2 separate regions of the Homo sapiens genome follow, and region 1 is linked to region 2. Evidence: fine-mapped expression QTL. A gene starts in region 2. The other region holds a variant in brackets. All regions are shown on one strand. Distances are from middle to middle.

Region 1 (5,390 bases), 280 kb after region 2:
AACAGAAAACTGTAGACCAGAAATAGTGATGAAATGCTGAAGGAAGGAAACAATTGGCAATCTACAGTTATAGATAAGGCCTAACCCCATTGTCTATGGTTTTGTGCTGTTTCATCTTGTTTTGTTTTGTTTTGTTTTGAGATAGGGTCTCACTTTGTCTCCCACACTGGAACACCATGGCGTGATCATAGCTACTGTAGCCTCTACTTCCCCGACTGAGTTCACCTCTGTCTCCTGAGTAGCTGGGCGCAGGCAGAACCATCTTGGCTATTTTGACCCTTATATATTTTTTGTAGAGAGAGTCTCACTACATTGCCCAGGCTGGTCTTGAACTCCTGGCCTCAAGCAATTCTCTTGCCTCAGTCTCCCAAAGTGGTGGGATTACTGGTGTGAGCCATGGTGTCCAGACTTGTCTAAGCTTTTAGAACTCAAATTGGACCACAGAAACGAGGATGTGAGCCAAAGTCATGCTTTTACCATGGCACAAAAATTAGTGTTTCTGGAGTTGTGCATAACCCAGGATCAGAATCATGCATCAGACAGTGACCCAGAACCCAAAAATGGGCCACATCCCAAAATCAGAAATGAAACACATATTTGTGTGAGGTGAGGCTACGGAATTCTTAGGCCAGACATAAATTTCTTGTTATTATTAAATATATTACCCATTTATCAATTTATTTCTTATAAATCATTTAAATTGTAATTATTTCCTTCTTTAAAATGACTTGAAATATGAAACAGATTATTTGCTATGTACTTCCTAATTAATATTTGCTCCCTACTGAGAACAATTCATGCCTGGATCCAAGGTGAGTTAATTTTTTCTTGAATAAAATATTAGAAGCTGAAATATATTTTATTTCTACTTTTAAGGTAACTTATACACATCTCTGAGATATCCTTCTTTTATACAATGAAACGGTTACTGCATTTTTAAGACAAAAAGTCTATATCTTGCTTGTATTTGGTAAAGAATGATTTATAATAAGTATTTATTAAATTCACAATTGATATAATTAACAGTTCAGAATTTTACAGTTAATCTATATGAGAGTATTTGCAAGTAATTATACTTGATTCTACATTTTCAATATCGTCAACATTTCAGTGAAAGAGATGAACTTGCATGCATTACTACGTTGTAAGCCAGCAAACCAGTAAGCTTTTCAACCAGTTAGGTTTGTAAAGTTTACCCTTACTTGGTAATACTTAAGTCATCATAAAAAAGTTAATGGGTGCAGCACACAAACATGGCACATGTATACATATGTAACTAACCTGCAAGTTGTGCACATGTACCCTAAAACTTAAAGTATAATAAAAAAAGAAAAGAAAAAGAAAAAAAGAAAGAAGAGTAACTAACAAAGGTGAAAATGCAAATTAACAAAAGCCGAAGAAATTTACCTTGATCACGAATATGTCTCTCACTGGAGGCCAGTCATGATGACCCTATTTCATTCCTGCAGGTCCTCCCCTCAAGTACTTTTTTAGAAAACGGCAACATTAAAGGAAAGCTGCCATTTCAAAATAAGTAACATTATAAGGAAACTAGCATGGGAATTTTCTTATTTACAACCAACGTCTCTCAATACTTAACTATAAATTCTACAAAGGATCAGAACATATTTCTTTAAAAATGAGTTTTATTATATCAAAGAAAATAATGGGGTATCCCAAACTGCAAGACAAAAAAGAAAGACTAGATTTCAAAGAGATTATAATAACACAGAAGGAGATGTGATGTAAACTGGTAGAGCTCAGGAAATAAATGAAAGTGAAAAGTAAGATATTACAGAAAGTAGAGCCTCATTTAAAATGTCGATTCTCCCCTGATTACTCCAGTGAGTAATCTGCTGCCAGGAATGTACCGTGCCAAGGCCCCCAATCACAGCAGCAACCTTTTTGAAAAGGAAGAGTGACAATCTTGTATTTTGAACAGGTTTTTATTCAAAGGCTATAATTACACATTGGCAACTCTCATTTTCCTTTCTTATAGCTGCTTCTCCTCCCAGGAACTTCAAATGTATCTCCCCACCTGGAGTGCTTTCTGCTGCTCTCCATGCTCGTTTTCAATTCAGGGCGGAGGGATCATGAAATGCTGAGATTTCCAGCACCGAGGTCTAGCGATGACACGCTGTGAAACTGTCTCCACATCAACCCGAAGCCAGCAGGCTCCCAGCCGTCCTTAGGCTTGTCAGAAGCAGGAACCCTAATGAAAACACCTTGGCAGATGCACCATAAAAAGAAACTAGGAAATAATACATTTGAGAGGAGAAATCTGAGGAAATGCCAAGATGCCATCTTTTTTTTTTTCTTTTTTTTTTTACTAGAAGGCCTCCTCCTTAAACTATTTGTGCATTTGATAGTAGCACAACTTTATCATGCATCTCAGGCTTACAGAAGCACGTAGAACCAAGAAAGACGTTTTCCAAAATTGTTTCAGTGTAAAATAACTCTTACATTAGTGTCTTTCCATTTTACATCAGGTCGGACTGAGGATGTAAAATATGTGTCAAGTAATGCGGAGCTCCTTGATACCTGCCAGAAGTCGCAGTACCTTAAGAATCATTACATTCCATTTTATGTCAACCTTTTAGGGAAATGAATGTGTTTTTGACAATGGCACTGCTATTCAAATGCTACCAAGCAATAAAAATGTTGGAGAGACCGTAGCATTCGTTGATTTGTGAGAAGTGGTTTTAGTTCTAGGTCACCTATAAGTGGCCATGTAAGCTTACTACAGTAATTTAGAAAAACTTGTTTCTGAGTTTTCTCATTTGTAAAATGAGCTACCAACATCGGCCACGCGGATTTAACGGGGATTTCAAAGATTTCCTTGCACTTTAATAACAGTCTGCTTTACAATTAAAGATCTCTTCCTTCCAGTAATGCACCCACCCACTCTAGCTTATCGCCCAGGTAAACTCTTCTTTTTTATTATTTTCTCTTTATTCTCATCATTTTCCAACTTCCCAATTTCCAAGAAATAATA[C/T]TTGTTTTATTCTCTTTTATAGTTCAGTGGTTTTTACTAAACATGCCAATTCCTTACTTTGAGAGGTTGTTTTACTGGCTTGGTAGAGATCATGACCTGCAATTCTTTAAAAAGTCACTGATGATTCTGATGAAAAAAAAAAATCTTTGTGTAGTACAATTTAAGAAACCCTCTGATGACAGCTTCTCTTATGTATTTCTATTACGGTATTTCCACATGTTATAATACAACTGGCCAGGCGCAGTGGCTCAGGCCTGTAATCCCAGTACTTTGGGAGGCTGAGGTGGGCGGATCACCTGAGGTCGGAAGTTCGAGACCAGCCTGACATTGTGACAATGAATGTTATTACAGTCACAATTATATAATAATGCAATATAGATATCAAGCCAATAGATTTTTAAAAATTGGACTTATAGAAAATATGCATTAATGCTAATGTCTGACAAAAGAAATAAAGATGAGATCAATGAAATACAAATAGCAAGCAGCTAGAATTAATCCTAATCACATCAGTGTTCTTATTACGTACAAATGGTCTAAACACCCTGATTAAAAGGTTGAGATTGTCAGTTCACATTGAGAAAGAGAGATCTAAGTATGTTCTGCCTGCAGGGAATAACTTGATATATAACAACACAATGTAAAAACATGAAATTAACTTCAGAAACGTTAAAGATCTCAGTGAACTCACTCTCTCATGCAAAAACAACAAAATACTGGCAAAACAATTAAAATAAACTCCTTCAGGACTCTATTAATTAATGCCACAGAAAGAGTTGAAAATCTTCTACCAAGAGAAACTATGGAACCTCAATAAGAAAGCAGAGTGTATGATGTTTGCCCAGGCCAGTGGTGTGGTAGCTAGCTATGAACGAGTGACAGCCTCGTACCTAACAGAGAAGAATAACCTATTGCGGAGCTCTGTTAAAAGCTCCATGGCCAGAAATAGTCAATATTTAGTCCAGATTTTCAGGTCTCAGGAAAATTTCTACATGCAAGATTTTGTGGTTATTTATTTTGACTCAGCGCTCAGTTCAGGCAAACATAAAACAATAAGCAACAAATGAACAAACAAAAAACCTACCTTCAGGGTACTACCATAAACTATTGTAATATGTTGACAATATCACAGCTGCTTTAGGCTGTAATTTAATTTGGGACAAAGAAGAGTCTGGCAAAAGTTTAAAATGACATCCTGGTAAACTAGGCAATCATAGGCAGCTTTGAAAAGTTTTGACAGTCTTGGGGATAGAAAAGCCTGTACATGCTCAAGGCTAGTTTCATGCCCAAGACATAAATGGTGAAGTCATCAGTCACTCACTTCTGACTGACACAGAGGCCTTGTGCAAGCAGGAAATGAAAGCTAAAACTGTATCATAGCTTACCTGAAGCTTGAAGGTATGCCTTTTCACACATATACCCCAAGTAAGGGGTGCAAGTTACACAGTTGAGGGATCTAAGAAAATCATCTAACCTGCCACTAGAGGATCACTAAATTATACTGATCTTTATGCAGAGGAAGTCAGGCTTAAAGAATAAGAAGTTGAAAACAAAACGAAACAAAACAAAATCAAAAGGCTAGTAGACAATGTAGTGGCCTCACACTGTAAGGAATGTATAACCTACAAAATTTGTCCAGCAAAGTTGCAAAATTAACAAAAAGCAATAGTATCAAGAAACAACAATCTCTGGCCAGGCAGTGGGAGGGTGGGGATCCCTAATATCAGCATTGTTACAATATATCAATTAAAGTGCCACATTTTAATAAAAAATCACAAAACCTGCAAAGAAACCAAAAAGTAAGTCACATACTAAAAAATTTAGCCAGAACAAACATCCTGGGGGGCCAGATGTTGAACTTCTCAGAAAAAAAGACTACAAAACAGCTATTATAAACATGTTTACAAAAACCAAAGGAAACCAAGTCTAAAGACTAAAAAACAAAGTATGCCAGCAATGTCTCACAAGACACAGAATATCAAAAGATTGTCATTTAAAAATCCAAATCTGCTTGTGAATACCCCTTCATGCTTCTGTATCTGCTAGAAAATTCTGCATATGAAATTCTGTGGTCATTCACACACAGAAACTACATTGATGTAGGATTTTTCTTCTCAGTCACTTTGCAGGCTGGGGAGCCCCAGCCAGTGACACCCCACCAGGGTCCCACTTGGCCACACTGGCGTGACCCAGCTCACCTGAGTGCAGGATCTTTTATGGACTCAGAATGGGGAGTGCATGCTGATTGGTTTGTGAGTATGCAAAAAATAGTTAAAGCAAAGACACCACTTGTTGGGGTGATCAGACTCAACACCAGGTCATGGGGGCAATGAAGTCCAGCGGAGTCAAAGGAATGAGAAAAGACAGTTTGAGAGAGAAAGTGGATCCAGGGGGC
Region 2 (5,390 bases):
ATGAGAAAGAATGGATTCGGCAAATTACAATATTGTAAATATCTGAGCCTCATAAAATTCTGGATTAGTTTTTGACTGATGAAGGAGACACTAAACTCTGCTACAACTTTGTTTTAGCCAATCAAACTCTCTACAGTCAAATCATCTTCACAGTATTACAGCCATCTAGAGAAGTTTTCATCATTTTTATTTTAATCTTCACAAATTATGCCTTTATTTTGTCTAGAAGTAAGACAAACTCCAAAATGCTTTGGCCAGCCTATGCGGGCCCTTTGCCCTTTACTGGCACCCTCTGGTCCATATTGCTAAGTCAGCTGTGACAGACAATCACACTCCTACCTCTACCCTGAAAGTGGTCAAGATTTTCTAAACTGTGAAGTAAAAGAGACATTTAAAGAAATACATATCAGCCAAACCTGGTACATTTCTAACAGATAGCGCTACTTAATTGGACACATAAGATTGAAGTAAATTTTTACATGCTACTAATTTTAATGATTCATCTTACATAAACATATTCTATGTATAGATTCATGATTTGATTTCAGGTTGGCTCCCTGACTAAGAATTGTTTCAGACCACCTAATACTTGAAGTACTAACTGCTCACCTTGAGAAACATTCAGGTATTTCAGCTATTCATTTAAAAATTCCACAACTGTAGCTTTTTGGATGTATTTCCAAAAGCACCTTGGTGTGCATGTGCCTCACAACTTATAGACAAAGTCCGGCATTTAGTTAATCTATGGGATTATATTTTTATATAACTTTTAAGAATCTAACTTTCTGTTCAGTTGTCTATGGAATCAGAAAGAAATTAAAATTAGCAGTTTTTCTCCTCCTTTCTCAATTTTCAGAAGTTTTAAATAATTTAAAGGATACACCAATTCCTAAGCAAAAACACTGGCACTTGTAATAATCATTTCACTGACTTTCTATTTTCAGATAGGCTTTAATATCATTCCCTCACACTCCAGCTATTTGTCAAATTCTATTCTTTATATTGAATTTCCCTTTTTATAACTTTAACTCTGATTTTTTTTGCCTTTTTCCCTTTAATGGACTTAGATGATCTTTTTATGTAATATCTTTAATTTGTTATCATTAGTTTTATATGACATATTCTTACTCATACCTCTTTTCGATTAGAGTCAGAGTAAACTTATGCCTGTTAAGTTTAAGACTCAGCATACTAGTCCCCACTTAACTTAGAATAATTTGAGCATGAAATAGGAGAATATGCAAGCAACCATGAGAATTGCTCAAAATTGACTACAGGCATTTTCAAAAACAGTTAATGACCTAATCATTATTTTTTAAAATACTGAGAGTCACAATATTAATCATAATGAACTCCTTTAAGCTCCCTGTAATGGTCATAAGTACTTCTGTAATTCTGTTGCAATTCAACAGTAATCGATGATATCTGCATTAATTTTTAAATTTGACTATTTGTCTATAATTTTAAATGCTAGTATTCTAATGAACATCTACTTCTTTCATCCTTATTTCCACAGTCGTAATTGAGAATCAAAGTAGAAGTATTGACCCTCTAAATGATTTTCTCTTTTAAATTAAGAAACAAATGAATGAAATGTAGGTAAGGCATTGAACATACAACAGTTTAAAAGTTTTTTGCTTCTCACCTGCATTTAAATTACCACATGAAATTGTATTTTTCTTGGGAGAACAGTTCTAAGATTTAAAAGTAATATAATTCTAAAATATTTAGTGGATTCTGGTTCTTTCGCAAATAAATATAGTTGAAACAACTTATTGTTCAGGTCATCAGAGTAATTCTCAGGTTTGTGTATGTGCAAATTGATATTCTCTTCCGTATATCTCCCTACAAAACATGGTAAGGATGTCTGAACATAATTTTTTAATCTATCACAATCCTATACAACCTTTAGAAAAAAGCTCAGCATAATCCAAGATACAGTTTTTCTCAGTCTCACGAACTTTGTAGAACTCCACTTATAGAGCATCCCTACTGAATTTTAACAAGTTATTGCAATGCCAGATGCCCAATTATTTAGTCTCGGAAACTCATTGCTCAAACATAAGGCATACATTCAGTACCTGAGAACGGCATCCTATTTTCCAAACATTTAGTTTCTTTTGTAGAAACATCCTCACTTTATCCTGGCATTTATTGCCTTACAATTTGCAATTTGCGTGTAGGAATTGCTTACTCTTATTTTGGGTGGCATTAGGAGATATACAAATAGGTTATATTTACTCTTGTTTCAACTTTTTGCCATAAAATCCCAGCAGGAAATAAAGTCGTGTTTTGTTTCCTTTATTTAAAAAAGCTTCATCTTACAGTTTTTACATTCTGGCAACATGGCAAGAAAGGATGGCTTTGCAGAACAGAGTGTGTCAAAAATCCTAAGTGGCTGGGAGATGAAGTGCACAATCACAGAACGCAGTCACTGGCAAAGGAATGTCAGCCACTTACCAATAAGATGCCAGACTCCACTGTCCTTCCTCTGTGACTCTCAATTCCTGTCTCCCATCCTCCTGCCCATCAGCACAGTTCAGAGAGAGCGGTTCCTCGGGTCCTTTGCAGCCTGTGGCAGAGGCGAATTGCGGAGTTCTTAATCATTCAGAGGGAATCCTCCAGCTTGCCCTGCCTCTCGCAGCAGACGGGACCCAGGTAACGCATCCTCTCCGCCCCGAGCTTTAATGGCACTTTGGCTGCCGCCTTCTCGCAGTTCCGCTCCCCCACGCCGTAGTTGGTTATATTGGGAAGTAGGTGCGGCGCCTCCTGCGGCTGGTGTGTTTGGGGCTCGCGTGTTTTCCTCCAATGCGTCCGCGCGCCCTGCGCCCCGCGCCTCTGACTGGCTGTGTCCTCCCGGGGCGGCCCCTCGCCCCTCCCCGGCCGCCCGCGCTGTCACCGGCGCCCGCGTCCAGCGCCTCACTGCCTCTTGCTGCAAAGGTTCATTGAGCATGTCCCTGGGCTTAACGAACTGTGCGCCTCCCGGAGGGTGCTCTGTGTTTCTCCACTCGTCTCACTAGTCAACCGGCATTTTCCTTCCCTGCTAAGTACAGAGGACCTGCCCCCCTTCCCCGAGCGTTTCTGCTCTGCAACCCCTCCGTATTTAACATTCATAGATTACAAAGCAAACGTGCTGGCTGGAGTCGGCACGGGAGATCCAGGCGAGAGTCCCTTCCTCCGCTCCTGTCTTCACTCTGATTCCTGTAGTCCCCGGCTCACACCTCTGACAGCAGCAGCACAGACTGACGCGTTCACTTAGGTCGGTTTGAGAGTGGACTTTTTCACTTTGCAGAATTTTCTTAAGTCCTGAATGGGAAGCACTTCTCTTTTGTTTCTGCACTTACGCGTTTCATCTAAGGACTATCAGGCTCTGCCTGTTTATATTTCTCTTTGATTTGGGGTGTTGACTCAGTTCTAAAAAAAAGCGAAGGAATGGTCTCAGCAACCTTTTTTTCGGAATTTTTATATTACAATGGCTGTAATTGGAAAAATAACACAGGTAGTAAATCCACAGTGTGGCAGCTTTAGTGCCATTGTTCTGCCAGTCCTCCTCTCTACTTTTTTTTTTTTTTTCCTCTCAGTCTTTGAGTCGTTTTCCAATTCCCACGATTGGGCTGATGGTAATTGGGTATTTGTTAAATAAATTATATAACATTTCCTTTGCAATATATTTCCATAGAGAATGTGGTTTGCACCTGTATTTAATGGAAAGGAAATCCCACGTACTGCTTTCTATCTCTGTGTCTGTATAAGAAACTGCATGGGAGTCTAGGGTCGCACCCCGTGTCCGCTGGTGTCCGTTTTTCATGTGTGTTTGAGAGCAGCCTGACCCTGGACTGACGCTGATTCTTCTGCTCACTGAATCCCCCGATGGGGTCTGACTGGCTCTAATTGGCAAGGAGAGTACAGTGCCAGGCAGCCTGTAGCTGGAAGCCGTCTACCACTAGCCCTGTGTTCTTTCTCTTGCAGTTTTTCTGGTAATTAAAATTAGTCTTTTCCTGTTTCTTGGCTGCTTCTCATTCATCCAATGATGTACAAACACCCAGTCTCTGCTTTTAATCGCTATCCTCAGGATCTAGGCTGATTGCTTGTTCTGTAGCAAAGACAAATTTGTGTGCATTTAATACTTCTCCACTCTTCCATACTTTTTATATTCGTGTTCCTGCTTTCCAGTAACTAGGTTATCTTCTTTATGTGTTAACTGAGGGATCGTTGTGGAGATTCCCCTTCTGTGGCTTTTTCTCTGCCCCACTGGCTCTTCTCCTCTGTCAGGCTGTCGGTTCACAGAGAGAACTACCAGGACTTTTATAACCACATTAAATACATCACAAAATAAATTCAAAGTGTAGGAGCTCTAACGCATTCTTTTTATTGTTCGATGAGGTTTTTGCCTTTAAAAGTGTATAATTGAGCACATGCAGCCTGAAAGAGGGATCGGGAGTGTAGAAAGCTTTCTGAAAGTTCTCTTCCCTTCTTAGAACACCATTCTATATTACCCATGATCCGATAATTTGGGCATTTTGAGTCATTATGTCACATAATTTCTTTCAACTAGCTTTGCCCTAGAAAGGATGTAAGTTGGCTTATAAAAATCTATTCAGTTTAAAAAAATGAATAAAAAATGTAGGTCAGTGAGATCAAGACAAACGGTAAAGTGATAGGAGGAGAGATAAGATGAAGCCAGAAATGAGGTTTATAGAGAAAACTGCATTGATGTTTTTGTTACAAATGGTGCTAGGTCTGCCATTAACTTTGTTAGCAGCCAATGTAAAGAAGGAAATGCTATCGGTCACATGATTCATGGTGCCCTCCTACCATTAACATGAACAAGAAAATTTACCTTTTACATGATGTAAATGGACTAAATATTTCTCCTTTCTTAAGCAAGAACTAAATAAAAGCTTTTAATGTTTCTACTTTTTATAAAGAGAGCAATATTATCACAAGACTATGGTGTGAATATATTTTTGAAACAAGTAGATAATGTAATAGCACTTTTCCTTGCGAAGTTATCTGATGCTTTAGAGGGAGAGAAAGGAAACGTTGAATCTGTTTAATTAAAAATAGTAAGGTCTATTTCTGTCAGTTCAAATTTAAAATGTTGACTTCAATCATTATTTGGGGGTGACTAGGTTACCTGGCTACACTTCATTCAGGACCCAGAAAGAGTGACTATATTTATTCTCATGTCTTTTATGACTTTTAATGTTCTAATTTGTAATAATATACAATTATATATTCCCTATTAATATCTATATATGTAACAGACAAACTGTTAGTCTATCTGACTCATCTTTCTTTAGAATTTTGCTGTTATGGAGTTAACTTATGTACTGTATATTTTTACAATTTTCTGCTTGGAGAGTAAGGGCTCTATAGATCAGGTACAC

Which allele goes with the higher level. Positions count from the first base shown, and alleles are read on the strand shown. Sizes are in standard deviations (SD) of each study's normalised expression.
With allele T in place of C in region 1, the expression in thyroid of the gene that starts at base 2,782 in region 2 is higher (small effect, 0.34 SD a copy in GTEx).

Evidence for each region. PIP is the estimated chance that this variant, and not a neighbour inherited with it, causes the effect.
Region 1: its variant is fine-mapped to the expression of CNTN5 in thyroid (GTEx, PIP above 0.99).

The regions. Positions count from the first base shown.
Region 1 is chr11:98,733,783-98,739,172 of GRCh38, reverse strand. No RefSeq gene overlaps it. Among named protein-coding and RNA genes, the nearest start is that of CNTN5, 280 kb to the left of the region's middle. RefSeq lists a silencer at 4,467-4,667. The variant C/T (reference allele first, on the strand shown) is at 2,996.
Region 2 is chr11:99,018,341-99,023,730 of GRCh38, reverse strand. It overlaps CNTN5 (contactin 5), which reads right to left and starts at 2,782. Exons shown (of 25, transcript NM_014361.4): 1 at 2,461-2,782. RefSeq lists a silencer at 205-405.